Homo sapiens: one gene and its partners. The protein of the gene in region 3 purifies or fractionates together with the protein of the main gene of each other region. This does not show direct contact. Each region holds a gene or a part of one and is shown on either strand. Other genes may lie near its edges.

What was found.
Region 1: the proteins of GPR173 (region 3) and CNNM4 purify together in Homo sapiens (affinity purification with mass spectrometry; one large-scale study listed by BioGRID and IntAct). This does not show direct contact.
Region 2: the proteins of GPR173 (region 3) and ATP13A3 purify together in Homo sapiens (affinity purification with mass spectrometry; one large-scale study listed by BioGRID and IntAct). This does not show direct contact.
Region 4: the proteins of GPR173 (region 3) and MAOB purify together in Homo sapiens (affinity purification with mass spectrometry; one large-scale study listed by BioGRID and IntAct). This does not show direct contact.
Region 5: the proteins of GPR173 (region 3) and XPO5 purify together in Homo sapiens (affinity purification with mass spectrometry; one large-scale study listed by BioGRID and IntAct). This does not show direct contact.
Region 6: the proteins of GPR173 (region 3) and CELSR2 purify together in Homo sapiens (affinity purification with mass spectrometry; one large-scale study listed by BioGRID and IntAct). This does not show direct contact.
Region 7: the proteins of GPR173 (region 3) and PIGU purify together in Homo sapiens (affinity purification with mass spectrometry; one large-scale study listed by BioGRID and IntAct). This does not show direct contact.

What each region holds. Positions count from the first base shown.
Region 1 is NC_000002.12:96,791,902-96,795,401, forward strand, and holds part of CNNM4 (metal transporter CNNM4 precursor), read left to right. Parts: intron 1-3,500. UniProt on the Homo sapiens protein: Probable metal transporter. The interaction with the metal ion chaperone COX11 suggests that it may play a role in sensory neuron functions. May play a role in biomineralization and retinal function.
Region 2 is NC_000003.12:194,431,503-194,435,002, reverse strand, and holds part of ATP13A3 (polyamine-transporting ATPase 13A3), read left to right. Parts: intron 1-1,106; coding exon 1,107-1,231; intron 1,232-3,110; coding exon 3,111-3,286; intron 3,287-3,500. UniProt on the Homo sapiens protein: ATP-driven pump involved in endocytosis-dependent polyamine transport. Uses ATP as an energy source to transfer polyamine precursor putrescine from the endosomal compartment to the cytosol.
Region 3 is NC_000023.11:53,047,398-53,051,588, forward strand, and holds the start of GPR173 (probable G-protein coupled receptor 173), read left to right. Parts: upstream 1-1,391; 5' UTR 1,392-2,087; intron 2,088-4,191. UniProt on the Homo sapiens protein: Is a receptor for the SMIM20 derived peptides Phoenixin-14 and Phoenixin-20. It mediates the Phoenixin-14 and Phoenixin-20 augmentation of gonadotropin-releasing hormone (GNRH) signaling in the hypothalamus and pituitary gland.
Region 4 is NC_000023.11:43,770,951-43,774,450, reverse strand, and holds part of MAOB (amine oxidase [flavin-containing] B), read left to right. Parts: intron 1-3,500.
Region 5 is NC_000006.12:43,566,039-43,569,538, reverse strand, and holds part of XPO5 (exportin-5), read left to right. Parts: intron 1-801; coding exon 802-828; intron 829-2,184; coding exon 2,185-2,370; intron 2,371-3,500. UniProt on the Homo sapiens protein: Mediates the nuclear export of proteins bearing a double-stranded RNA binding domain (dsRBD) and double-stranded RNAs (cargos). XPO5 in the nucleus binds cooperatively to the RNA and to the GTPase Ran in its active GTP-bound form.
Region 6 is NC_000001.11:109,270,039-109,273,538, forward strand, and holds part of CELSR2 (cadherin EGF LAG seven-pass G-type receptor 2 precursor), read left to right. Parts: coding exon 1-95; intron 96-387; coding exon 388-562; intron 563-888; coding exon 889-1,001; intron 1,002-1,178; coding exon 1,179-1,258; intron 1,259-1,347; coding exon 1,348-1,474; intron 1,475-1,561; coding exon 1,562-1,684; intron 1,685-2,239; coding exon 2,240-2,367; intron 2,368-2,601; coding exon 2,602-2,690; intron 2,691-2,794; coding exon 2,795-2,989; intron 2,990-3,127; coding exon 3,128-3,298; intron 3,299-3,397; coding exon 3,398-3,500. UniProt on the Homo sapiens protein: Receptor that may have an important role in cell/cell signaling during nervous system formation.
Region 7 is NC_000020.11:34,667,093-34,670,592, forward strand, and holds part of PIGU (GPI-anchor transamidase component PIGU), read right to left. Parts: intron 1-3,500. UniProt on the Homo sapiens protein: Component of the glycosylphosphatidylinositol-anchor (GPI-anchor) transamidase (GPI-T) complex that catalyzes the formation of the linkage between a proprotein and a GPI-anchor and participates in GPI anchored protein biosynthesis.

The DNA of each region.
Region 1 (3,500 bases), on a different chromosome or scaffold from region 3:
GGAGTCACTCGCTCTGTTGCCCAGGCTGGAGTGCAGTGGCATGATCTTGCCTCACTACAACCTCCACCTCCTGGGTTCAAGCAATTCTGCGCCTGAAATCTCAGCACTTTGGGAGGCCGAGGTGGGCTGAACACTTGAGATCAGGAGCAGGAGAGTAGCCTGGCCAACATGGTGAAACCCCATCTCTACTAAAAATACAAAAAATTAGCCGAGTGTGGTGGCAGGTGCCTGTAATCAGGCAGACTGAGGTGGGAGAATCACTGGAACCTGTGAGGTGGAGATTGCAGTGAGCTGAGATCACGCCACTGCACTCCAGCCTGGGTGACAGAGTGAGACTCCAGCTCAAAAAAAAAAAAAAAACCACACACACACAAAAATACAATTTTATTAGAATTTATACAATGAGAATCCTAAATATAAGCCCTAAATTGATCTGCTTATTTTAGATGTTAAATCAGTTAGCAATAATTTCCGAAGTATAGAAACTTCTAAATTAGTAAAATCTAAAATAATTCTTTCCATCTTCGGCCTCCCTTCCCCTTCCCCGCTCCCCTTCCCCTCACTGGTTACTTTTCTCCTCCTGCTAAATGGATGTAGAGGCACAAAGAAAGACAGGAGGGACTGGTCACGGTGGCTCACACCTGTAATCCCAGCACTCTGGGAGGCCGAGGAGGGTGGATCACCTGAGGTCAGGAGTTCGTGACCAGCCTGACCAACATGGTGAAACCCCATCTCTACTAAAAATACAAAAAATTAGCTGGGTGTGGTGGCGGGCGCCTGTAATCCCAGCTACTTGGCAGGCTGAGGCAGGAGAATCCCTTGAACCTGCTAGGTGGAGGTTGCAGTGAGCTGAGATCGCGCCACTGTACTCCAGCCTGGCGACAGAGCAAGACTACATCTCAAAAAAAAAAGAGAGGAGGTCAGGCTCACCGTCCCATGGGCCTGATAACTGGGACAGAGCTGCCCTAAAGGGAGACAGGAGTGTTGGGGGGATGGGCATGAGCTGGGTTTTGGCTGCGTTAATTTCAAGGTATTAGTGACGTCAGGCAGCACTTGGATAGAGGAATCTGGAGGGCACGGGAGAGGACAGGGCTGCAGAGATTTATTTGGGACACTTGTACACTTGTATTTAAAGTTGCTAGGCAAGGGACCAGGTGTACAGACTGAGTTCTGAGTCTCTCCAGCATTTAAGTGGTCAGGGAGAAGCAGTGACTCCTGAGGTCAGGAGCACTGGGAGGGCTGTGCCCTGGAAGCCCTGGGCAGAAAGGGCTTCCAGGGGAAAGGAGGGAGTCACCGTTGGTCAGCAGGTCATCTGAGAATAACACTCCACCATGAAAGGTCATTGGTGACCTTGACCAGAGGCTCTCTGGCCCGGGGAGGGGAAAATTCTACCAGGACAAAAAGATGTCCCCTCTGGACAGACAAATTAGAAAATAGGAAAAACAGCCCAGGGGCCCAAAGCTCACCCTGCAGAGGGTGACTGACTGGCCCCTTAGGCTGGAACCTCTGTACGGAACCCCAGTTGGCCAGCCATCAGGCAGTGCCCAAAGCTCAGCTTGCAGAGGAGGGGTGAACGTGTACATGGTGCTCAGGGCTGTACACCTACAAGGTGCCTGTCATGCAGCTGGCTGCCACCCGAGGGTGCACACACACAGCAGTGGATCCCGCCAAGGGGTCTCAGAGAGGAGGCGGGGGGCGGAGAATGGTATCAAGACCCTGCTCAGGGAATCAGCTCATTTCATCCGCAGGAGGGCTGTTTCCACTATAAGAGAGGCTGCCAGGCCGGGCGCGGTGGCTGACATCTGTAATCCCAGCACCCTGGGAGGCCAAGGCAGAATGATCACTTGAGGTCAGGAGTTCGAGACCAGCCTGGCCAACCTGGCGAAACCCCGTCTCTACTAAAAATGCAAAATTAGCTGGGTATGGTGGCGCACACCCAGCTACTCAGGAGGCTGAGGCAGGAGAATCGCTTGAACCTGGGAGGTGAAGGTTGCAGTGAGCTGAGATTGTACCACTGTACTCCAGCCTGGGCCACTCCAGCCTAGGCTACACAGTGAGAGTCTGTCTCAAAAAAAATAAAAACAGAGAGAGGCCAGCAGCCTTTCACTGTGAGGGAACCTTTCGTTGGTCAGGATTTGGTCTGAGCCTGTGGAGTAATTAGGGATGTGAATGTAGTGGAGAGGTTGTTTTCTGACTTTGGGGGTCTGAACAAGGTTCTGCTCACTGAACCTTGTCAAAGAACACACCCCCATTCCCTGGGGCTCGATCTGTGGCAGTAAAAAGCACAGAGGGCCCTTGTCCACCCTAGAGACTCTCACCAGTTTCCCTTTGTTCTCCTTAATTTTGTTTTCCCCCTTAATTTTGTCTCAGTTTTGTTTTTAAATTATAAAAGTAAAACATGCCCATCAAATATAACAGTATAGAAGGGTATATAGAGAGGCAAAATAGCCTCCTCCCCAAACTCCAAATACCCCCAAAGGTGACCACTCTTACTACTTCTGGACGCTTCCAGGGCAGTTCAAGCCCACACACGCCTTTGTTTCTGTGAAGGCAGATGGCTCCATGCATTCTGTTCCGTGACTTGCTCTTTCACTAATAGCGTATCTTGGATTTCGTTCCGCGCTTTATTCATCCACCTCTGCCGTGTTCTCCCTTGAGTAGCTGTGGCCCCTTTTGAGTCCCTGTGCCCTATTGCTATTGCTTTAGGTTGTTTCTGGTTTGGGGCTGTTAAAAAGAATGTTGCCAAGAGCCCCCTTCTCTTGTGTCTTTTGTGAAGGTTGCCTCTCCCTAGGGTGAGTTCCTAGAAGTGGACCTTCTAAGTCCAAGGTTAGGAACCCTTGATTTTGTGACATCCTGACCAACTGGCCCCCTGAAATGTACCCTTTTACCTGGCCACCAACCAGATACATGTGAGGGCCTGTTTGTCTTCCCCATCCTCCACCATAACTGGGCATTACCAGGCTTTTTAGAGGGTGCCCATCTGGAAGGGGGTACAGGTTGGGCATCCCGAATCCAAAAATCCAAAATCCCAAATGCTCCAAAATCCAAAACTTTTTGAGTACCAACATGATGCTCAAAAGAAATGCTCATTGGAGCATTTTGTAGTTCAGATTTTCAGATTTGGGATGCCCAATGGCGTGTATTCTGCAAATATTCCAAAATCCAAAAAAATCTGAAATCTGAAACACTTCTGATCCCCAGTGAGGAATAAGGGATACTCAGCCTGTCAAAGCTGCCTTGCTTTAATTCCCATCCCCATGTGGTGACATGGTTTAGCTAGATGCCCAGGCCCTTCCAGGCACTGTCTTTCTGGAGGGCACTCCTGTATGGACAGCCTCCAGCAGGCACAGAGGCCTGGGGGCGGACCCCAGGGTCCCGGCCTGGCCCGCTGCCGCCCTGCTGGAGGGCCTCACAGATCTCTTGAACTTGTTGGCTCATCTCTAGGAAGATACTGGGGTATTTTCAATCGAGTCCAGCCATGGCTTTGTCTAGCAAGACGC
Region 2 (3,500 bases), on a different chromosome or scaffold from region 3:
CATTGAGAAAAAAATTTCTATGATATAATTCAGGTAGGTTGAGGTGTTTTTTGTTTGTTTTCTTTTTTTGTTTGTTTCTTTTGAGATAGGATCTCTCTTTGTTGCTTAGGCTAGAGTGCAGTGGAACAAACACTTCTCACTGCAGACTTGACCACCTGGGCCTTAAATGATCCTCACTCCTCAAGCCTTCCAAGTAGTGGGACTGCAGGCACATGTCATCATGCCCAGCTAATTGTTTTTTCATTTTTTGTAGAGACGGGGTCTCACTATGCTGCCCAGGCTGGCCTCAAACTCCTAGGTTCAAGCAATCCTCCTATTTCAGCCTCCCAAAGTGGTGGGATTACAGGCATGAGCTACAATGCCTGACCTGAGATTTCTTAAGAACGTAACTATCACTGAACAGACTTCATCTCTTTTATAGTGCTAAAGCACGTACTATTTTTGTGTGCATCTCTTTGGTTGCATGTCTGTTTCCCCACCCAAGTGTCTTGAGAGCAGAGATCATCCCTTTTTGTCTTTAACCTCCCAGTGACTAGCATAGTGCCTGCTGCATTCTTGATACTCAGTTATTTAAAGAATAGCATCTTGATAACTATATTAGTAATATTTTCAAAGACCCATCTCTGGGTCCCAAGTAGATCTCATTGTTGGATTGCTAATGGTTCTTGTGTCACATTTTCAGGATCAGTAATTGTTTTATAGAATTGATCTGAGACTTGATAATGAATCCACGAAAACTGTATTGAATGTGCTTGTGGCACAGTTTTTTCTTTTTCACTTAACATTTAAATTAGGATATGTTGTAGAGGGCAGTAAAGAATAGATTTATGCTTATTTTTGGATACTACACAAAATGAATATTCCTTAGTATTAGAATTGTTTAGTGTACAGTGACATACATTTCCAAATGATTATTATATTGAGATACTGAACTCTTGAACACACACGTGGTTTATTCAGCATATAAAATGTTTTCATTTATAGATATTTTAAACTGCATTATAACTTATAGACATTTTTAATTGTTTAGATATTTCAAGTTTGTGTACATAAGTTGCTTACTCAATTGACTAAACCATTATGTGTTAAAACTTCTTTTTCTGCAGAGATGCAATTGAGAACAACATGGATTTTATGGGATTAATTATAATGCAGAACAAATTAAAGCAAGAAACCCCTGCAGTACTTGAAGATTTGCATAAAGCCAACATTCGCACCGTCATGGTCACAGGTTAGACTTTATAAAAGAACACAGAAGCAAATGGAGTGTGACAGAGCTGAAGTTATATTATATTGAGGGATAATCAGTTATAAAATCATATTATATAGTCTATAGTGGTTTCAACCTAAGTTCTCTTTTAGCTCTGAATATTTTCCCAAGCGCAAGATAACTTTGTCATATTCTTTTTGAGGTCTAGCGAATCCTATTTATAGAAAGTGTAGTAGAATAGTAAAAGTACGGCCGGGCGCGGTGGCTCACGCCTGTAATCCCAGCACTTTGGGAGGCCGAGGCGGGTGGATCATGAGGTCAGGAGATTGAGACCATCCTGGCTAACAAGGTGAAACCCCGTCTCTACTAAAAATACAAAAAATTAGCCGGGAGCGGTGGCGGGTGCCTGTAGTCCCAGCTACTCGGGAGGCTGAGGCAGGAGAATGGCGTGAACCCGGGAAGCGGAGCTTGCAGTGAGCCGAGATTGCGCCACTGCAGTCCGCAGTCCGGCCTGGGCGACAGAGCGAGACTCCGTCTCAAAAAAAAAAAAAAAAAAAAAAGAATAGTAAAAGTACACTGTAAAAATTTAAACTTGACTCCTTTTTGTTTTCTCTCTTTATTCGTATATTTCTTATAGCACTTATTGTACCTTGTGTTATTTGTAGATTTGTTTTCTGTACTAGAATATAAGATTCTTGAGGGTTAGGAGTATATTTTACTCATGTTGGGGTCCTTTGCAACTTTTAGAACTGTCAGCTACATAGAAAATGATTAATAGATATTCGATAGCATGAAATGTTTATATGTAAGATATTGTTTATTACCCTAGCTTGAATTCTAGTGAAATAGCCTACTTTTTTTTTTCTAGTACATCTAAGGGATTCTCCTGATGTTACTATACTGTTGATAATATTAGATAACTCTTACTCATTAGCTGTGTGAAATTGTGGTAGCTCTGTTTTTTGTTTTTTTTTCTTAGCAGATAATCAGATTTAAGATACTTAATGGCACTTACGTGTTCAGTAAGACTAATATGGAGAAAGTCTGTATACATTTTTGTGTTTTAGACTCTTGAGATCTATCTAATAACATAATTTTACCGTATAACTCAAGGTAACTAAGTCTGTTAGCATTCCAGCCATTCTTAGTTCTTGCGTCTTCTTTGTCAAGACACTTTTCACCTGTTCCTCGTCCTCCTCTTTTATTTATTTATTTATTTTCCCCTTGCCAGAATATGGCTTTGTGTACCAAAGGTCATAGGAAGATATTCTTGGAAATAGTGTGTGGAAATTGAGGAAAGAAATATCTCGCTCTTCTGTTTTGGTAGCAGTGGGATCCACAAACCTTTGTCTGCTTCTCCTTAATAAGATCCTGTTCTTGCTGCTCTTCTTTCTTCTCATGACTGAGAAGTTGTCTCTCTTGTTTCTCGTTTACACCTGTTCTTATTACCTGTCTTACCTTTTTGTTTTGTATGATCTTGCTTTTGTAATTCATCATTTTCTATGATATGGTGCTGGTGTTCTTGCACAGACCACTAGTCACTTTGTAAAGTTATTTCGGTAAGTATTTATTGAGCCACCTGATCTGTGTGTAGCACCGTGCCAGGTATTGTGTAGATACAAATAGTGCATGACTGGAAAAGATTGAGAATTATATTTGGCTTTAAAAATTGTGGGTGAGATGTTTTCTTTAGCATATAACGTGCTTGCGTTATTTGAGGCTTCTTTTGATAAGTATGCTCCAATTTTGTTATTTTTAAACTGTAAGTGGAAGAACCATACATTATCGTTACTCTGCCAGCCCAGTCATGGAGACTGTAGTAGATTCTCAGCAAGTACATGTTTGATACGTTCACGTTTCCATTTTAATTTCAATACATTTAAAATATTTTGAAAATTAGGTGACAGTATGTTGACTGCTGTCTCTGTGGCCAGAGATTGTGGAATGATTCTACCTCAGGATAAAGTGATTATTGCTGAAGCATTACCTCCAAAGGATGGGAAAGTTGCCAAAATAAATTGGCATTATGCAGACTCCCTCACGCAGTGCAGTCATCCATCAGCAATTGACCCAGAGGTAAGGTCAAGATCGACTGTCCGTTTTAAAGTTTGTTGATTTAAATTTAGTCTGAAAAAATAAAAAAAGTGGTGCATTAAAACACAGTAAAGCAAAAACTAAATGAAAACAGAAGTCAGGGCTATTTTTTCAGAGATTATGTTTCATTAGGACTGGGACAGACCCAGGAATCTCAATGTTCAAATTTTGATATTTAGCTAAGATGAGAAGCATA
Region 3 (4,191 bases):
GTGGGCATAAAAATGACCACCGGAGGGCCTTGTCAAAAGGCAGGTTTTGAAGCCCCATCTGAAAACCTCCTAGATTAGTATTTCTGGGAGGTAGGCTTGGGTATCTACACTTTACAAGTTCTCCAGGGGATTCAGATGCAAGTGGGTTCCAGGTCCACAGTCTGGTAGCAGAGCCTGCATTTCCTAAGGGCAGAGAGCATAGGTCTGAGTCACCCGGTACTGTTAGTGCCCAGCACTGGGCCTAACATAAAACCATTTGTCATAAATGAAGGAACCAATGGATGAAGGAAGAAAGGAAATAAAACACAATTTCTTATATCAAGATAATTTGAATTCTTGAATGCTGTAACTTAGGGGAACCACTGAAGCATCATTTGGTCCCAATTTAATCATATTTGAAACAAATATTTTTTTCCTTGTCTTCATATCTCTGCCTACCAAGCGTTCTCCTCACCTCTCCTATTCTGTTGTCCTGGGACATGGCTTTAAGTATGGGTTCTGCCTGTCTGCTGGCCCCGAGAAAGTGGGGATGGCACAGGAGATATCCTGAGAGGGGCTGTTCAGAGTTGGGCAGCGCTCCTTTCCCACCCCAACCCCCCAGCCAACCTCCAGGCCTTGCAGGGAAAATGCCCATAGAACCCCATTCTAAATCAGTTTATGAATCCCACCTCTCCGGGCCCTAAGCATGCCTCCCAGCCCAAAGCTTTTGAGAAACTTTCGCCGGACCTTTGTCCCGACCCAGATCCTAGCGTCCTCTATGCCCTGCCTCCTCTGCACTTGTAGCCCATGTGAGTTGCTCTCTCAGCAGCCTCTTGGCCATCTCTCCCCACCTCCACTCATGCCTCTCTCGAGCATCTCAGAAAGGCCCGAGCCTGACTTCCCCAGCCAGCTATTGTCCTGGCAGCACAGCCGCCACGCCAGCGTCCCCACCCAGTCAGCCAGCCGGCTGCTCCCTGGCCTCGCCAGCACCCCCCGCCCCCCCCCCCGCTCCCCGCCCCGCCCCAGGGAGGACCAGGCTGGCAGCTGGGAGTCTCCCTGCCTGCTCAGCCTTCCTCCTTCCCTCCCTCTCCCTCCCTGCCTCCCTCCTCCTCCGCCCGCCCCTGAGGCAGGGACCGTGCAAATCGAGGAGAGGGGGGACGGACAGGCCTGATGGGGTCCAGCTTAGGGCCCCGGACTCCCCACTGATGCTCTATCCAGGCTGGGTGTCCCCAGCATCGTGGGACCTGGATTTGTGTGCACCGGGGTGGTTCCCAGGCCAGGAGGGTCCCTCTGGCAGGCCCTTGGTGCCCTCGTTTTGCATGAGGACCCCCCTCGGATGCTCTGAGCCACCCTCCTCAACCCGGATCTAAAACCCGGGACACGGCTATCAGGCCAGCCTCTCTCTCCACCCCACCCCCTCTTTCTGGCGTCCATCCCCTCCCCAACACCACCTCTGCTGCTGCCTCTGGCTGTGGACCTGCACCTCTTCCCCATCCCCGCCAGGCCCGGGGAGCGGGGTGAGCCTGGATGAGAGCCCCCCCAACCTGGGGCTCTCCCAGGCCATGGCCCGTGTGCTCCCAGGGAGGAGCCCCGGACCCTGAGCATCTGCTGGAGGCTTGGCAGAGGCCCCGCGGGGACCGTGTCTTCTGAGGACAAAAGGCGGCGGCCAGCAGGCAGACGGAGGGGGGGGGTGGGGGGTGGGGGGGGTAGGGGGACCGGCAGCCAGGCAGGCAGACGGGTAGCAGGGGCCAGCACTGGCCCCCCTCCCAGCTTGGCAGTGGCATGAAGATGGGAGTGGGAGTGTATAGTGGAGGAAGCACCTGCCGGGACCCCCACCTGCCAGCTAGTTGGACACCCCAAGGCTGTGTGCTGCCCACCTGGTGTTCCCCAACACCCCCAGCCCTACCCAGTGCACCCCTCCGGTGCCTGCTTTCCCTGATGCCTGCGATTTAGACCAGCCCGGCTGTATCCACGGCAACAGAAGCAGGAGTGTCACTGGCCGCCAGATCACTGAGGGTCCCACAATGTGGCCCGGGCTGTGATTTACCTGGGTGAGACAGCTTGAGCCCCATCGTGGATTCCAAGACATCCCTGCTGAGAGAGCCAAGGTAAGCAGTCAGCATCCCTCCACCAAGGATGGGGGGCTGGGACTTCTGTTCTGTCTCCCCACACATACTTCAGAGTCTCCATCACTGCCATGCTCTCTGTCTCTGTCTGACTCTGTTAGTCTCTTTCTGCTCCATCAAGGGGCTCCTTGGTACCCAAGCCTGGGGACTCCTCATCTTCCCCCCATCTTCCCCAATCCCAAATGTCCCATGAGAAAGGGAACCACCACCTGTTTCCCCTCACAGGGTCTGTTTTTATCATCATGGTTGCGTTTGGGCATGAGGCTGTGTTAATCTTTCCTTGTGTGCTGGCTGTGGAAGGGATGCCTGGGAGCCCGGCGGCCGTGTTCCCTTCACAATGCCTGCACCCTGGGCAGGCTCAGCCTCTTGCGGCTGCTCCTCTCCCTCTCCCTCCTCCTCCACTCTCCTCCAGGATCCCTGGCCTGCTGGCCGGGTGTGTGTGTGTGTGTGTGTGTGTGTGTGTGTGTGTGTGTGCACCTGGGTAGCAAGCAGGTGGGTAGACATGACAGAGAAGCTGCTCCCAGCCCAGACCATCCCCCACTCCTTCTTTCCTCCTTTCCTTCCTTCCTTCCTTCCACCCTCCCCACCTCCCCATCTCTCCCTACAGGTAGCAGAGTTTTGCTCACTCACCACTGAAGATGTTGCCGATTCCCAGCTAGGGGGAGGAAGTCACTGTAGGGCTAAAGGACAGTGAAGTGGTGGTGGGGAGCACTTCCAGGCCCTAGGCTGCCTGATGGTTCTGTGGGGGCAAAGACCAATCCCATGACAACCTGCAGGGGCCAGGAACAACATGGTTGTCCCTACAGTGTGGGACCCAGCCTCCACCACAAGGCTCTCTGTCTCTGTTTCAGATGTCCATGTTGTGTCTGAGACCCCCCGGATCTTGTGGCCTTGTGCCCAGTAGCCGGAGGTCCATATATCTGGAAGGGCAGGAAAGCCTGGTACATGGAGAACATGGATCCTCCCAGGGACACTTCCCCCAACTACTAGCTCTGCAACTTTAGTGGAAGCATGCCACTTACCGAACCTCAGTTTTCCCATCTGTCAAAGAGACTGGTAACCCTTCCCTGATGGGTGTGTGTAGGGATTGAATGAGTTGGTGCATGTAAGTAAGAGATGTGCATCGAGGTGGCACTGAAGCAATGTCAGCAAAGCTCACAGTCAATATTGTTGCTGATTATTCATGATTAATAGTGTTATCGATTACTTGGAGGAGGGACAGGTCCTTCTTCTCCAGGGTCTCAGCAGAGATCTGGGGAGGGCAGCAAGTGGGCAAATGGAGGGTAGTGGAAGGGAGGCAGGAGAAGCCCTGTGTTAATACTTCTCATTTGTAGAGAATGATAAGTGGTTATGGGCAGAGCCTCCCTCCCCCACCCCACTCCAGTCTTCTTTCCCTGCACTTGTCCCTGTTTGTGCGCACACACACACACAGAACCTTGAGCCCCCATGAGCCAGCAGAGGCCTGGCTTGCAGCCTGCAGCCTTTCTGGCCCTGGTGATGTATGTGTCTCCCTGTTGAGGGGAGACTTGGCAAGAGTTTGGCCTGTGGTCAGTGGTTGGCAGGGCCTGGAGATGAGGCTGAAGCTCCTGAGATCACGGGGCTTCGGGTAGAGCTGGGGTGTGGCCCATGCAGCAGCCAGACCTGTGAGGGACGCGTCCCAGGGAGCTGCTCACCTAGAGCCTGGGGTGGGGGAAGAACGGGGTCTGCTGGCTGATTTCAGGGCATGGAGATGTGATGGGACACAGAGTGTGGGGTCGGTGGCCAAGGGAAGAGGAGGAATGGGGAAAGACTGAGGCCCAGAAGACCATCTCTGTGGGGGCAGGGAGGGGGGCTTTGAGGCATAAAGTAGACTTTTCTGAAGAAGCATTTGGTGTGGGAGAGGACCTGGTCTGTGGTCTGGAGGCCTCTGGGCCCGAGCGTGGTTGTATATATGCTACTGAAAATGTGTGGCTGAGTGTGTAGTCTGTGTGTGCATGTCTGTTCATGGGCAGTGTGGCTGTGTATGAACCTGTGTGTGTAAGCAGGCCGTGTGATGGCATGTGTGTGAGTGTGTGGGTATCTGGGTAGGCTTGTGTGTGTACTGTGG
Region 4 (3,500 bases), 9.3 Mb from region 3:
TAGATGCTGGGAAGTATGAGTTATTTTTTAACATCCTTATTGAGACGTAATTCACATACCATACAATTCACCTATTCAAAACGGTGCACAGTTCAATGGCTTTTAGCATTCACAGCATTATACATCCAAGTGTGTTGTTGTTTAGTTAATTTATTTGATGACAATAAATGAACTAATAATATAGCAGTGATTTTTATGACTATTATACTATTACTAAACCAAGCAATAATTTAATGCCAAAAGCTTAATCTAAACAGGATGAGAAATGTAGACTAGTGAGTCAAAGACTGTTGAAAGTATGCAGCAAACAGAGGGGGTAAGTGGAAATGGCTAATCAATCTGTCCATGAAAACTGGTCGAATAAGGAGTAAAACCTGCTTATCAGAAGATACGTAATAACTTTGGTTAGCACTTTCTTTACCTGCTTAAAGATGGCAAAATATTATCCAAGAGAACATTCTGGGGCCAAGGGGCAGCACCTGATAAGCTGCTGGGTCATTAAGTTAATTTTTAGATATGCTGACTGTGTTACTCTATTTTCACACTGCTGATAAAGACATACCTGAGACCGGGCAATTTACAAAAGTAAGAGGTTTATTGGACTTACAGTTCTACATGGCTGGGGAGGCTTCACAATCATGGCAAAAGGCAAGGAGGAGCAAGTCACATCTTACGTCGATGGCAGCAGGCAAAGAGAGAGCTTGTGCAAAGAAACTCCCGTTTTTAAAACCATCAGATCTTGTGAGATCCATTCATTATCACCAGAACAGCACAGGAAAGACCCCCGCCCATAATTCACTCATCTCCCACTGGGTCCCTCCCACAACACATGAGAATTATGGGAGCTACAATATGAGATTTGAGTGGGGACACAGAGCCAAATCGTATCACTGAGTGTAGAATATGTCAATGGTATTTGTTTCATTCTGCATTTATTGGCTAAGTGCCAACCATTTGCGAAGCACTGTGCTGAGAACTTCAATACCAAGGACAGCCTCCCTGCTGAGAAGGAGCTGACAGTGTTGAGGGCTAGGGTGGGGATGGGGAGAGGACATGATATCAAAAATTGACTCTAAAGTACTGACATATGTCCCTGGAAGGGAATAAGGATAAAGGAGGGCACTACTGTATCACCACTCAGAATGTTACCACTGAGGTAAATGCTCTAATACAGGGGCATAGAGATACCACTGGAACACACAGAGGCACAGGCTAGCTTTACTTAGAGAAATCTGGGAAGGCTTCATAATGCACATACCACCTGAGGGTTGTAGGAGGCAGAGAAAGGCTATTGGGGATGCAGTCTATGCAGATGGAATGGCATGAGGAAAACGCTAGGATCCCACAGGTTTCTGGAAAGTCTGGGGAAGAACTTTGCATGGATGGTGTATTAGGCCATTCTTGCATTGCTTAAAATAAATACCTGAGTCTGGGGAACTTATAAAGAAAAAAGGTTTAATTGGCTCATAGTTCTGCAGGCTATACAAGCATGGTGCTGGCATCTGCTCAGTTTCTGGTGAAGCCTCAGGGAGCTCACAATCATGGCAGAAGGCAAAGTGAGAACAGGCAAGTCACATGGCGAAAGCAGGAACAAGCAAGTGTGGTGGGGAGAGGTACCATACACTCTTAACGTGACCAGATCTTGCTAGAACTCACTATCATGAAGAAGGCACCAAGCCATGAGGGATCCGTCCCCATGATCCAAACACCTCCCACCAGGCCCCACCTCAAGCATTGGAAATTACAATTCTACATGAGATTTGGGCAGGGACAAATATCAAAATATTATATCAGATGGGCTATGGGTGATATTAAGGACAGAATGGAGAATCAGATCAAAGGGGGAGGAAGAACAGTTTGCCCTATATGACACATTCAGGAATACAAAACTTGATATTTCAACAGAGAACAGCTATCACTGCATTACTTTTGTTTTTGGCTTTGTTTTAAATCAGAAGTGTGATATGATTAGATTTCTGACCACAGAGTGGTGGGTTTTATGCTCAATTTCATAAATACCTTTTGGTTTGGGGAACAAAGAGGACACTAACCTGAACTGGCCTGATCCTGACCACGTGAGAGAAGCAAGATAAATCCCATTGTATCTGGCATTGGTGGTGATACAGTAATGCCTTCTTTTATCTTTATTCCTTCCCAGGGATATATGTCAGGCTTCCTATAACTACCTTCAATTTTTAGGGTAGAAACTAAGGCACAGCATAGCTTAACATAATTCCCAGCTTGAACAGAGACTACCTGCCCAGAAGACTTCCCTTGACCCTTCAGGGCCATGGTATTTAAGATATTGCAATAAGTTTTATATTCAGAGCCCTGAAAGTTCACAGTACATGTTCTGAAGGAAAAGAGAAGACAGAATTACCAGTACAACTTGGTAAAGAACTAAATATACATTTCTTAAGAAATGTTTCTTCTGGATAGGGTGAAAAAAATGATTGTCGTGATTATGCAGTAAAACTCATAAGCCACAAGAAATATATGTGGAGTTCCCCTTTATGATGTCCTATATCTTTTGTAAATATATACTGTCTGTTCACGCACCTGCAAAAGAAGGGGCAGGTATTTTTCTTACCTGGTTGTTGGACTCTTTTTTTCCCTTAAAGGAACATAATTTCCAAATGACAAGTGGCGGGAAACTATCTCTTTGTTTAAAATTAATTCTTGGTTTTCACATATTCTGATTTATAGTATGATTAGTTCTCTAAGCCTTTGTTCTGTCTTCTAATATTTCATTCTTAGGGTCTAGCCAGGCCTCCTAGAGGTCTCCAGCTGGGGTTAGTTTTCTCCATTGAAAAAAAAGTAAACATGTAGTGAAAAACGGCATTGTTTAATCAACACGGGGAAAGTCAATCCACCTTCTCTTGTAGGAAGGGTTCCTTCCTGAGTACCCTTAGGCTCTCTATATATTTCATGTGTTGTCATCAATATACTAATACAGGTGTTCCTCAAAATATGATGGGGTTATATCCCAATAAACCCACCATAAATTGAAAATATTATAAGTGGAAAATGCGCTTAATACACCTAATGTACTGAATATCATAGTTTAGCTTAGCTACCTTAAACGTGCTCAGAACACTTATATTAGCCGACAGTTGGGCATAATCATCTAACAGAAAGCGTATTTTATAATAGAGGGTTGAATATTTCATGTCAAGTTTTAAATACGGTATTGAAAGTGAAAGACAGAATGGTTGTATGGGTACTTGAAGTATGGTTTCTACTGAATGTGTATTGTTTTAACACCATCATAAAGTTAACAATTATACGTTGGAGACCATCTGTATTCTATATAATATCTCTCCTTGTATTTTCTTCTCCTTTTTGTGATGACTACAATCAGAGCAGGTGAAAGAAAACCCACCAATGCAAGCCAGCTCATTTGGTTTTCTAATAAAAGGCCCAGTGGTGTACAGTGTTGACTAAGATGGAACATGGATGTTAGTTCTTGACATCGCTTATCAGATATAAGAGAACCATGA
Region 5 (3,500 bases), on a different chromosome or scaffold from region 3:
TGGTCTTGAACTCCTGACCTCAAATAATCCGCCTGCCTTGGTCTTCCAAAGTGCTGGGATGGTAGGCGTGAGCCACCGCGCCTGGCCTAATTTTGTATGCTTGTAAGTTAACATTATGTGCCTTTGTATGGATTTGAAATATAAGGATAAAAATCAACCATATTTGTATATTCACTGAATAGCCACTATTCTGATGTATTTAACATCATATATATATGTATTTTTTTTTGTTGTTTTTTTTTTTTTGAGACGGAGTTTCACTTTTGTTGCCCAGGCTGGAGTGCAGTAGTGCAATCTTGGTTCACTGCAACCTCTGCCTCCCGGGTTCGAGTGATTCTTCTGCCTCAGCTTCCCAAGTAGCTGGGATTACAGGCATGCGCCAGCACACCGGCTAATTTTTGTAATTTTAGTAGAGATGGGGTTTCACCATGTTGGCCAGACTGGTCTCAAACTCCTGACCTCAGGTGATCCACCTGCCTTGGCCTCCCAGACTGCTGGGATTACAGGCGTGAGCCACCACGCCTGGCCAACATCCAGTATTTTTGAGTACATGGTTTTCATATACTTAGGCTATACATACATGTTCATGAATTGTATTCATTTAATTATGCTTCTGACTTTACTTGTTCTCCCTAGGGGAATATCAGTTATGCGTGCTTAGTAAAGTTGTGTTATTTTCCAAGATGAAAAATTGCATATATTTAAGAATCATTATTCAAGGGCATTGATTTGTGGGGGGTAGAAAGTTATTATGTGGCCTTTTGCTCATTAAAAACACTGGATCTTTATACTTCCTTTCAGAAGACAGATACTTCTCAGGAGTCAAAGGTAAGAGCTCTTTATAAAGTTTGAAGGAGACCTTTGAACCTTTCAGGTGAGGGGATACGTGCCCCTAGTGGATGGTGACCTCAGCCTTGCTTGTGTTGTATTGTTTTGGAGACAGGTCTTACTGTTGCCCAGGCTGGAGTGCAGTTGTGTGGTCTCAGCTCACTGCAGCCATGACCTCCCCAGCTCAAGTGATCCTCTCACCTCAACTTCATGAGTAGCTGGGAATATAGGTGCGCACCACCATGCCCAGCTAATACTTTCTATAGAAACAGGGTCTCAGTGTGTTGCCTAGGCCGGTGTCAAACCCCTGGCTTCAAGTGATCCTCCAGCCTCGACCTCCTGAAGTGACTGTGGGCCACTGCATCTGTCGTTTGTTTTTTTTGTTTGTTTTTGTTTTTGTTTTTGAGACGGAGTCTCGCTCACTTGCCCAGGCTGGAGTGCAGTGGCGCGATCTCGGCTCACTGCAAGCTCTGCCTCCTGGGTTCACGCCATTCTCCTGCCTGGCCTCCCGAGTAGCTGGGACTACAGGTGCCCGCCACCACACCCAGCTAATTTTTTGTATTTTTAGTAGAGACGGGGTTTCACCATGTTAGCCAGGATAGTCTCAATCTCCTGACCTCATCATCCGCCCTCCTCAGCTTCCCAAAGTGCTGGGATTACAGGTGTGAGCCACCATGCCCAGCCTGTCCTTTGTTCTGTTTTTGATCACTGAGCTATGGTTGAAGGGAAGTAAAAAAAAAAAACAAAAACAGACTTACTTTTTTTTTTTTTTTTTGACACAGGGTCTTACTTTGTCACCCAGGCTAGAGTACAGTGACGCAAACGTGGCTCACTGCAGCTTCAGCCTCCAGGCTTCAAGTGAGCCTTACCTCAACCTCATGAGTAGCTGGGACTATAGATGCACACCATCATGCCTGGCTAATTTTTGTATTTTTTTGGTTAGGGTATTTTTTTTATTTTATTTTATTTTTTGTTTTTTTGGTAGACACTAGTTTTGCCATGTTGCCCAGGCTGTTGTTTTAACTCCTGGGCTCAGTTGATTCACCCACCTTGGCCTCCCAAAGTGCTGGTATTGCAGGTGTGTGCCACTGCACCCAGCCTTGGGAAGTAAAATGATAAGATTTGGGGTTTTGTGAAAAAGATAAAATGGCCACACATGCCAGTATGGTCTTGTTGTTGGATGTTGAGAATGTCATTGTTTGAGAAGTGATTGTGTTCCCTACCTGTGACTGTTACATGAGTATATTCTTAAAAAATAATTTTCTTAGAATTAGAAAATGGGAGTTCAGTTATAACCACTGATTCCTTACCTGTTACCGAGGACTTCATGGTCCAAAGTTACTTCTTTTCTGGTAGGCGCAAGCAAACTGTCGAGTAGGAGTTGCAGCACTGAATACTCTAGCAGGCTATATTGACTGGGTGTCTATGAGTCACATCACTGCTGAAAACTGTAAACTCCTGGAGATACTGTGTTTGCTGTTGAATGAACAGGAACTTCAGTTGGGAGCCGCTGAGTGTCTTCTCATTGCAGTCAGCAGAAAAGTAAGTTACCACTTCAAACTGACTTATCCTCAGTCTCTGAAGTAGGCTGTGTATGTGTTTAATTGCATGTTGTGGCAGAAAGTCATTTAAAGGTTTGGGTTTTTTTCCTTGGGGCCAACTTACTGCCTGCTTCCAACCCCCTTGGACAGGAGTTTGCCAATATTCAAGGGATCCTTTGGCAGAATGTGGAGATTTATCAGGCTGCATGGTTCTTGAAATAGCCATGATACTTGGCAATTTACAGTTAACAGATAAAAGTAAATGTTTAAGTTTAAAGCTCACTTAATGAATGTCAAGGAATCTTGGATGGTGGCTACAGTAGGTTTATATCTGTCTTTTTTTTTTTTTTTTTTTTTTAATTGAAACAGTCTTGCTCTGTCACCCAGGCTGGAGTGCAGTGGCGTGATGTTGGCTCACTGCAACGTCCGCCTTCCGGGTTCAAGCGATTCTCCTGCCTCAGCTTCCCGAGTAGCTAGGACTATAGGCACACGCCACCATGCCCGACTGATTTTTGTATTTTTTAGTAGAGATGAGGTTTTGCCATGTTAGCCAGGCTCTTCTCGAACTCCTGAGCTCAAGTGATCTGCCCTCCTCAGCCTCCTAAAGTGCTGGGATTACAGGCGTGAGCCACTGCGCCAAGCCTATGTCTGTCTTGGCTAACCAATGGAACTGTGACTCTTTTCTCCATAGGAATATTATCTACAAATGTAATTTACTTTGCTGTCATATCAGCATTATTGCCCAACACATTTATTTATTTATTTATTTATTTTTTGAGATGGAGTCTCGTTCTGTTGTCTAGGCTGGAGTGCAGTGGCGCAATCTCAGCTCAGTGCAACCTCTGCCTCCCGGGTTCAAGCAATTCTCCTGCCTCAGCCTCCTGAGTATCTGGGATTACAGGCGTGTGCCACCACACCCAGCTAATTTTTGTATTTTTTAGTAGAGATGGGGTTTCACTATGTTGGCCAGGCTGGTCTCGAACTTTTGACCTCAAGTGATCCACCTGCTTTGACCTCCCAAAGTGCTAGGATTACAGGTGTGAGCCACGGCACCTGGCCTAATTTTTGTATTTTTAGTAGAGACAGGGTTTCACCATGTTGACCAGGCTGGTCTCGAACTCCTGATCTCAG
Region 6 (3,500 bases), on a different chromosome or scaffold from region 3:
GCTCCAACCAACACGGCATCCGACGTAACCTGACAGCTGCCCTGGGCCTGGCTCAGCTGGTCTTCCTCCTGGGAATCAACCAGGCTGACCTCCCTGTAAGATGCTCCTACTGCCCAGAAACTGTCCCCACCTTCTCAGGCCGCCTCCCCAGCCCCCACTGGCAACCCCTGCTCCTGCACCATGAACTCTAATAAGGTGCCTAGTGCAGCACCTGGCCCAGGGTTTCCTCTTCTGTGGCTCCCCCGGGATCCCCCAGCACCTGCCTCTGGCCCAGGCTTCCCTGGAAGCAGTTCCCAACACCCAGGCCCTCCTCCATGCCTGACCCGAAGCAGAGCCTGTGCTCTGGGCGGGCCCCGGTCGCTGACCTGCCCTGGCCTGGGCCCTCAGTTTGCCTGCACAGTCATTGCCATCCTGCTGCACTTCCTGTACCTCTGCACCTTTTCCTGGGCTCTGCTGGAGGCCTTGCACCTGTACCGGGCACTCACTGAGGTGCGCGATGTCAACACCGGCCCCATGCGCTTCTACTACATGCTGGGCTGGGGCGTGCCTGCCTTCATCACAGGTACTCCCACCCATTCCCAGTCTTGGGGTCCCACATCCCTGGGTCCACCTTTGTGCCATGTTCTCTCCACCCACATACAGGCCCTGAGGCCCCACATCCCCATGCCCCAGGCCGCCTTATTCACAGGTGTCCCTCTGGTTTAACCCAGACTCTGCAGCCGCCACCCAGGCGTCACTCCCTTATCCTGGGGAGATCGGTAGGGGCCGATGGTGGGCAGAACCCTTTTCCATGCTTCATGCCTGGCCCTGTGAGCCCACCTGCCCGCAGCCCTACTTCCCAGGCCCCTCATCACCCCTCCACTGCTCCCGTCTGTCTCCATGCTCCAGGGCTAGCCGTGGGCCTGGACCCCGAGGGCTACGGGAACCCTGACTTCTGCTGGCTCTCCATCTATGACACGCTCATCTGGAGTTTTGCTGGCCCGGTGGCCTTTGCCGTCTCGGTGAGTGCTAGCAGGTGGGTTGGGTGTCACCTGTGGCCCTCCTTTGCTGTCCTCCTGCTGCTGGGGCCGCGTGTCCTCAGGACTCCCTTTAGGAACAGCTGAGGCCACGGGGCCCTGTGGGCTGGGTGGAAGCTGTTTGTCCCCACTGAGCACCCCATGCCCTCTGCCCCTGCCTAGATGAGTGTCTTCCTGTACATCCTGGCGGCCCGGGCCTCCTGTGCTGCCCAGCGGCAGGGCTTTGAGAAGAAAGGTCCTGTGTGAGTATAGGGTTGGGGTGCCTGGGCCATGGGCAGGCACCAGCATGGGAGGTCTCATGGCCGGACTCATGGCCTGTCCCTATCCCCAGCTCGGGCCTGCAGCCCTCCTTCGCCGTCCTCCTGCTGCTGAGCGCCACGTGGCTGCTGGCACTGCTCTCTGTCAACAGCGACACCCTCCTCTTCCACTACCTCTTTGCTACCTGCAATTGCATCCAGGTACCTGGCCCAGCCTGTGGAGAAGGGAGGCACCTGGGCTGTGGATGCCTGAATATGCACAGACCGTTGCTGCCTCTTGCCTGCCAGGGCCCCTTCATCTTCCTCTCCTATGTGGTGCTTAGCAAGGAGGTCCGGAAAGCACTCAAGCTTGCCTGCAGCCGCAAGCCCAGCCCTGACCCTGCTCTGACCACCAAGTCCACCCTGACCTCGGTGAGGGAGCCAGGGGTCTCAGGAGGGCGGTGAAGGGAGGGAGAGGCAGGAGGCCCAGTGAGCCTGTACTTTTGGCCCCACTCCCCTTTCTCTTTTCTCCATCCCTTCCTGGAAGGTGGAAGGGGAGGTGAAATGCTGTGTTCGGCCTGGGGAGGAGATGTTGGAAAGGGTGTGTAGGATTTTGACTTGAGGGAGATGGGGCTGAGACAGATAATCAGGTAATAAGTGCCTTGCACCTGAGAATCTCTCATGAATTTTAGTAAATTTTCTGTCTCCCAAGGTGCTCTCAGGAGACAATTTCTGGTCTCATCTTTTACAGAGCCATTATATAGTGAGTCCAGGATCCCTGGGGGCATGCAGGGGTAGCACAGCTGTGGCAGAGCTGTGACCACTGCCAGGCCTCAATATGGGGACAGCGGAGAAGCAGGGCCCTCTCTTTCAGACCTGAGCATGTGGAAGGTGGAACTTAGGGCAAGTTCCCTCCACCCTCCTTCTTCCCAGCCTGGGGCCAGCCATCCCACTCCCCACTTACTGACCTCTCTGTTCCCTGCCTAGTCCTACAACTGCCCCAGCCCCTACGCAGATGGGCGGCTGTACCAGCCCTACGGAGACTCGGCCGGCTCTCTGCACAGCACCAGTCGCTCGGGCAAGAGTCAGCCCAGCTACATCCCCTTCTTGCTGAGGTGAATCCCGGAGATGGGAGGGTGGAGGAGGGGAGGAGGGGCCCACGCATGCTGGACCCAGGCCAGCCAGCTGTTGGGAGTTGAGGAGCACACACTGTGGCTGACGTGGGGGCCAGCTTGGATTAGAAGCTGTAAGGGACCCACAGCAGGAACCAGGATCCCAGGGGAGAGGAGAGACTGGGACCCTGGGCAAGGGGCCAGGCTGACCCCTCCAGCATGGTCTCATCTTCCTAGGGAGGAGTCCGCACTGAACCCTGGCCAAGGGCCCCCTGGCCTGGGGGATCCAGGCAGCCTGTTCCTGGAAGGTCAAGACCAGCAGCATGGTGAGGACAGAACGCTCTGGCCACCCAGCAGGGCAGTTGGCTGGCTTTTACTGAAGGTGGGTGGAGGTGGCTGGGCTGGCTGTGATCTCTCCCTGGCCTCCTAGATCCTGACACGGACTCCGACAGTGACCTGTCCTTAGAAGACGACCAGAGTGGCTCCTATGCCTCTACCCACTCATCAGACAGTGAGGAGGAAGAAGAGGAGGAGGAAGAGGAGGCCGCCTTCCCTGGAGAGCAGGGCTGGGATAGCCTGCTGGGGCCTGGAGCAGAGAGACTGCCCCTGCACAGTACTCCCAAGGGTGGGCCAGCACTGGGGCTGTGGCCTTTGGGGCCAGTGGGAGGACAGTGGGCCTGGGGTTCTTGGGAAGCAGGACTGGGGTGGTGGCCTCCTGGCTATCTGCCCTCTGTGGGCCTCATCTACTTCCTTTCCCCACCAGATGGGGGCCCAGGGCCTGGCAAGGCCCCCTGGCCAGGAGACTTTGGGACCACAGCAAAAGAGAGTAGTGGCAACGGGGCCCCTGAGGAGCGGCTGCGGGAGAATGGAGATGCCCTGTCTCGAGAGGGGTCCCTAGGCCCCCTTCCAGGCTCTTCTGCCCAGCCTCACAAAGGTGAGTGGGGCACCCCCAGCTGCCGAGCTCCCCTAGTCAGCAGCCTCATACCTCACATTCTCCTGTGGCCGCACCTCACAGCCCCGCCCCGGCCCACAGGCATCCTTAAGAAGAAGTGTCTGCCCACCATCAGCGAGAAGAGCAGCCTCCTGCGGCTCCCCCTGGAGCAATGCACAGGGTCTTCCCGGGGCTCCTCCGCTAG
Region 7 (3,500 bases), on a different chromosome or scaffold from region 3:
TGGCCTCCCAAAGTGCTAAGATTACAGGCATGAGCCACTATGCCTGGCCAATAATTCTTAGTTACCTTGGTATACTTTTCCTATGGGTGATAATAAAAGCATATCATCCTGTATAAGACAAATATTATTTTTCAGTTTCCCGTATCAATAAGGACAAAAGCTTGTTCAAAAGCAGTAGTGTCCCTATACTTCTAGCTGAGGGCCTAAGAAGCAGCATCACTCCAGCTGCAATGAACACACCTAGCATTCAGAACTTTGTTTCTAAATAACATTCTCTAATAAAAGGAGCCAGGGCCCTTGAAGAAGTGGTCAATTCCAGGGCTGAACTAAGCAAGATAAACCTGGATCATCTTATAGTTCTAGAATGTAATAAAGTGCTTTTAAAAAAAAAAAGTGAGATAGAGGTATGGCAAAAGGACAAAGGGGTCAAGATGAAAGCGGTCCCAATGGCCAAAACTAGAATAATCCAAACAACAGAATGAATATAGTATACAGAGTCCAGAGTATAAAATATCCAAATCTATACTGACATAAATAGTTAAATAAATGCAAAGAAATGACAACTCTTCCTTACAGAAGAATTTTAATTATTAAATAAAAATGAATGAGAGAAACAGAAAAGTCACCATTGAAACACCTGAGTAATGACTGTTACAGGCAAGATTAACCTATGAATGCAAAAATTAGTAGGCAAAAATTTAAAAACAGGATATTTGCAGAGCTCCAAAGAATAGCCCCTAAAATGCTGATTAATTACAAAGGGAAACAGTCACTTTATGGTGGAGAAATCTGGCAGACACTACATTAACCAAGGGATTATGGCTGACATCACCAGTATTAGGGCATTTCAATATGCACCCCTGATCCAATGCACTGAGAGGACCATATCATCTCAGGGGTATTCTTCCCCAAAATCCATTACCTCCGTCAAACCACAAGAAAACATTAGACAAAACCAAATTGAGGGACATTCTACAAAATACCTGACCAGAGCTCTTCAAAGTGTCAAGGTCATAAAAGATGAGGAAATGCTAAGGAACTATCACAGATAAACGACTAAGGAGATATAACAACTAAACGCAATATGTGGCCAGGCGCGGTGGCTCATGCCTGTAATCACAGCATTTTGGGAGGTCGAGGCAGGTGGATCACCTGAGGTCAGGAATTCGATACCAGCCTGGCCAGCATGGTGAAACCCCGTATCCACTAAAAATACAAAGATTAGCTGGCATGGTGGCAGGGACCTATAATCCCAGCTACTCGGGAGGCTAAGGCAGGAGAATCTCCTGAATCTGGGAGGTGGAGGTTGCAGTGAGCCGAGATCTCGCCACTGCACTCCAGCCTGGGTGACAGAGCGAGACTCCGTCTCAAAAAAAAAAAAAAAAAAAAAAGGGGGGGGCGGGCGTGCTGGCTCACACCCGTAATCCCAGCACTTTGGAGGCTGAAGTGGGCAAATCATGAGGTCAGGAGATCGAAACCATCCTGGCTAACATGGTGAAATCCCATCTCTACTAAAAATATAAGAAATTAGCCAGGCGAGGTGGCGGGCACCTGTAGTCCCAGCTACTCGGGAGGCTGAGGCAGGAGAATGGCATGAAACCGGAAGGCGGAGCTTGCAGTGAACCAAGATCGTGTCACTGCACTCCAGCCTGGGTGACAGAGCGAGACTCTGACTCAAAAAAATAAATAAATAAATAAATAAAATAAAAATAAAAATGCAATATGGAATATTAGATCATAGAACAGAAAAAAAATTAGTGAAAAAATGGTAAAACTTTTTTTTTTTTTTTTTTTTTTTTTTTTTTTTTACACAGGGTCTTGCTCTGGTGCCAGGCTACATACAGTGCAGTGGCATGATCATAGCTCAATGCAGCTTCCTCATCCCAGGCTCAAGCAATCCTCCCACTTCAGCTTCCCAAGTAGCTGGGACCACAGGTGTGCGCCACCAAACCAGCTAACTCTTTTTTAATTTTATGTAGAGAGGGAGTCTCCCTATGTTGCCCAGACTGGTCATAAATTCCAGAGCTCAAGGCATCCCCTCGCCTCAGCCTCCCAAAGTGCTGAGATTATAGGCATAGCCACTGTGCCCAGCAAAAATGGTAAAATCTTAACAACTATGGTTTAGTTAATAGTATTGTACCAATGCTATCATCTTAGTTTTGATCACTGTACTATGACTATGTAGGATATTAACATTGGGGGAAGCTGGGTGAAGGGTATACAGATCTCTCTGCAATATTTTTGCAAGTATTCTGTAAGTTTAAAATGATTTCAAGTAAAAAGCTAAAAAACAGGCTGGTGCAGTGACTCATGCCTGTAATCCCAGCACTTTGGGAGGCAGAGGCAGGTAGATCACTTGAGGTCAGGAATTCAAGACCAGCCTGACCAACATGGTGAAACCCTATCTCTACCAAAAATACAAAAATTAGCTGGGTGTGGTGGCACACACCTGTAATCCCAGCTACTCAGGAGGCTGAGGCAAGAGAATTGCTTGAACCCAGGAGGTGGAGGTTGCAGTAGGCCAAGATCACACCACTGCACTCCAGCCTGGGCAACAGAGTGAGACTCTGGCTGAAAAAAAAAAAAAAAAGTAAAAAACAAAAAACAGTGGTATCTAGTCTCTGGATCCAGCTGCCTATTTGCAGGAAATAGAGATGATAGAGGAACATGTTAAATTGTATCATGATATATAATCAGGAAAATTCAAACTATGGGAGATCTGTCTGGATTCTTCAATAGATAAACACTATGGAAGAGAAAGGGAACCTGGGACCCTAAAAATTAAGAGAGATTGAAAACACAAACAAAAACTTTTTTCTTAGGGGCAAGACTAAGCCTAACGGCAAATGAACTAGGGATGTTCATTTGAGTAATAAAACTTTTAAAAATACAAAGATGTCATTACATATAAAAGTCAGGATAATAGTTACTTATGAAAAGAGTGAGGGGATTGTGACGAAGGGGGGCTTCTGAAGTGAGTGGCAAAGTTCTGATTCTTGACTTGGATGACAGTTACAAAAATGTTCACCTTACAATAATTCACCATAGAATACATTGTTATGTGTGTCTTACAAATTCTGTTTAATTTTGTAATAACGGCTTTTTTTTTTTTTTTGAGACAAAGTCTTGCTCTATTGCCCAGGCTGGAGTGCAGTGGCATGATCTCAGCTCACTGCAACCTCCACCTCCTGAGTTCAAGTGATTCTCCTGCCTCAGCCTCCTGAGTAGCTGGGACTACAGGCTCCTGCCACCACACCCAGCTAATTTTTGTATTTTTAGTAGAGACAAGGTTTCACCATGTTGCCTAGGCCGGTCTCGAACTCAAGCTCAAGCAATCTACCCACCTCCCACCTTAGCCTCCCAAAGTGCTGGGATTACAGGTGTGAGCCACCTCGCCTGGCCATAAAGGCTTTTTTAAGTAGTGGTATCAGAAGTGCTCTTCCTGACCCTGATTCTTTTATTTTTGAGACAAGGTCTTGTTCTGTCGCCCAGGCTGGAGT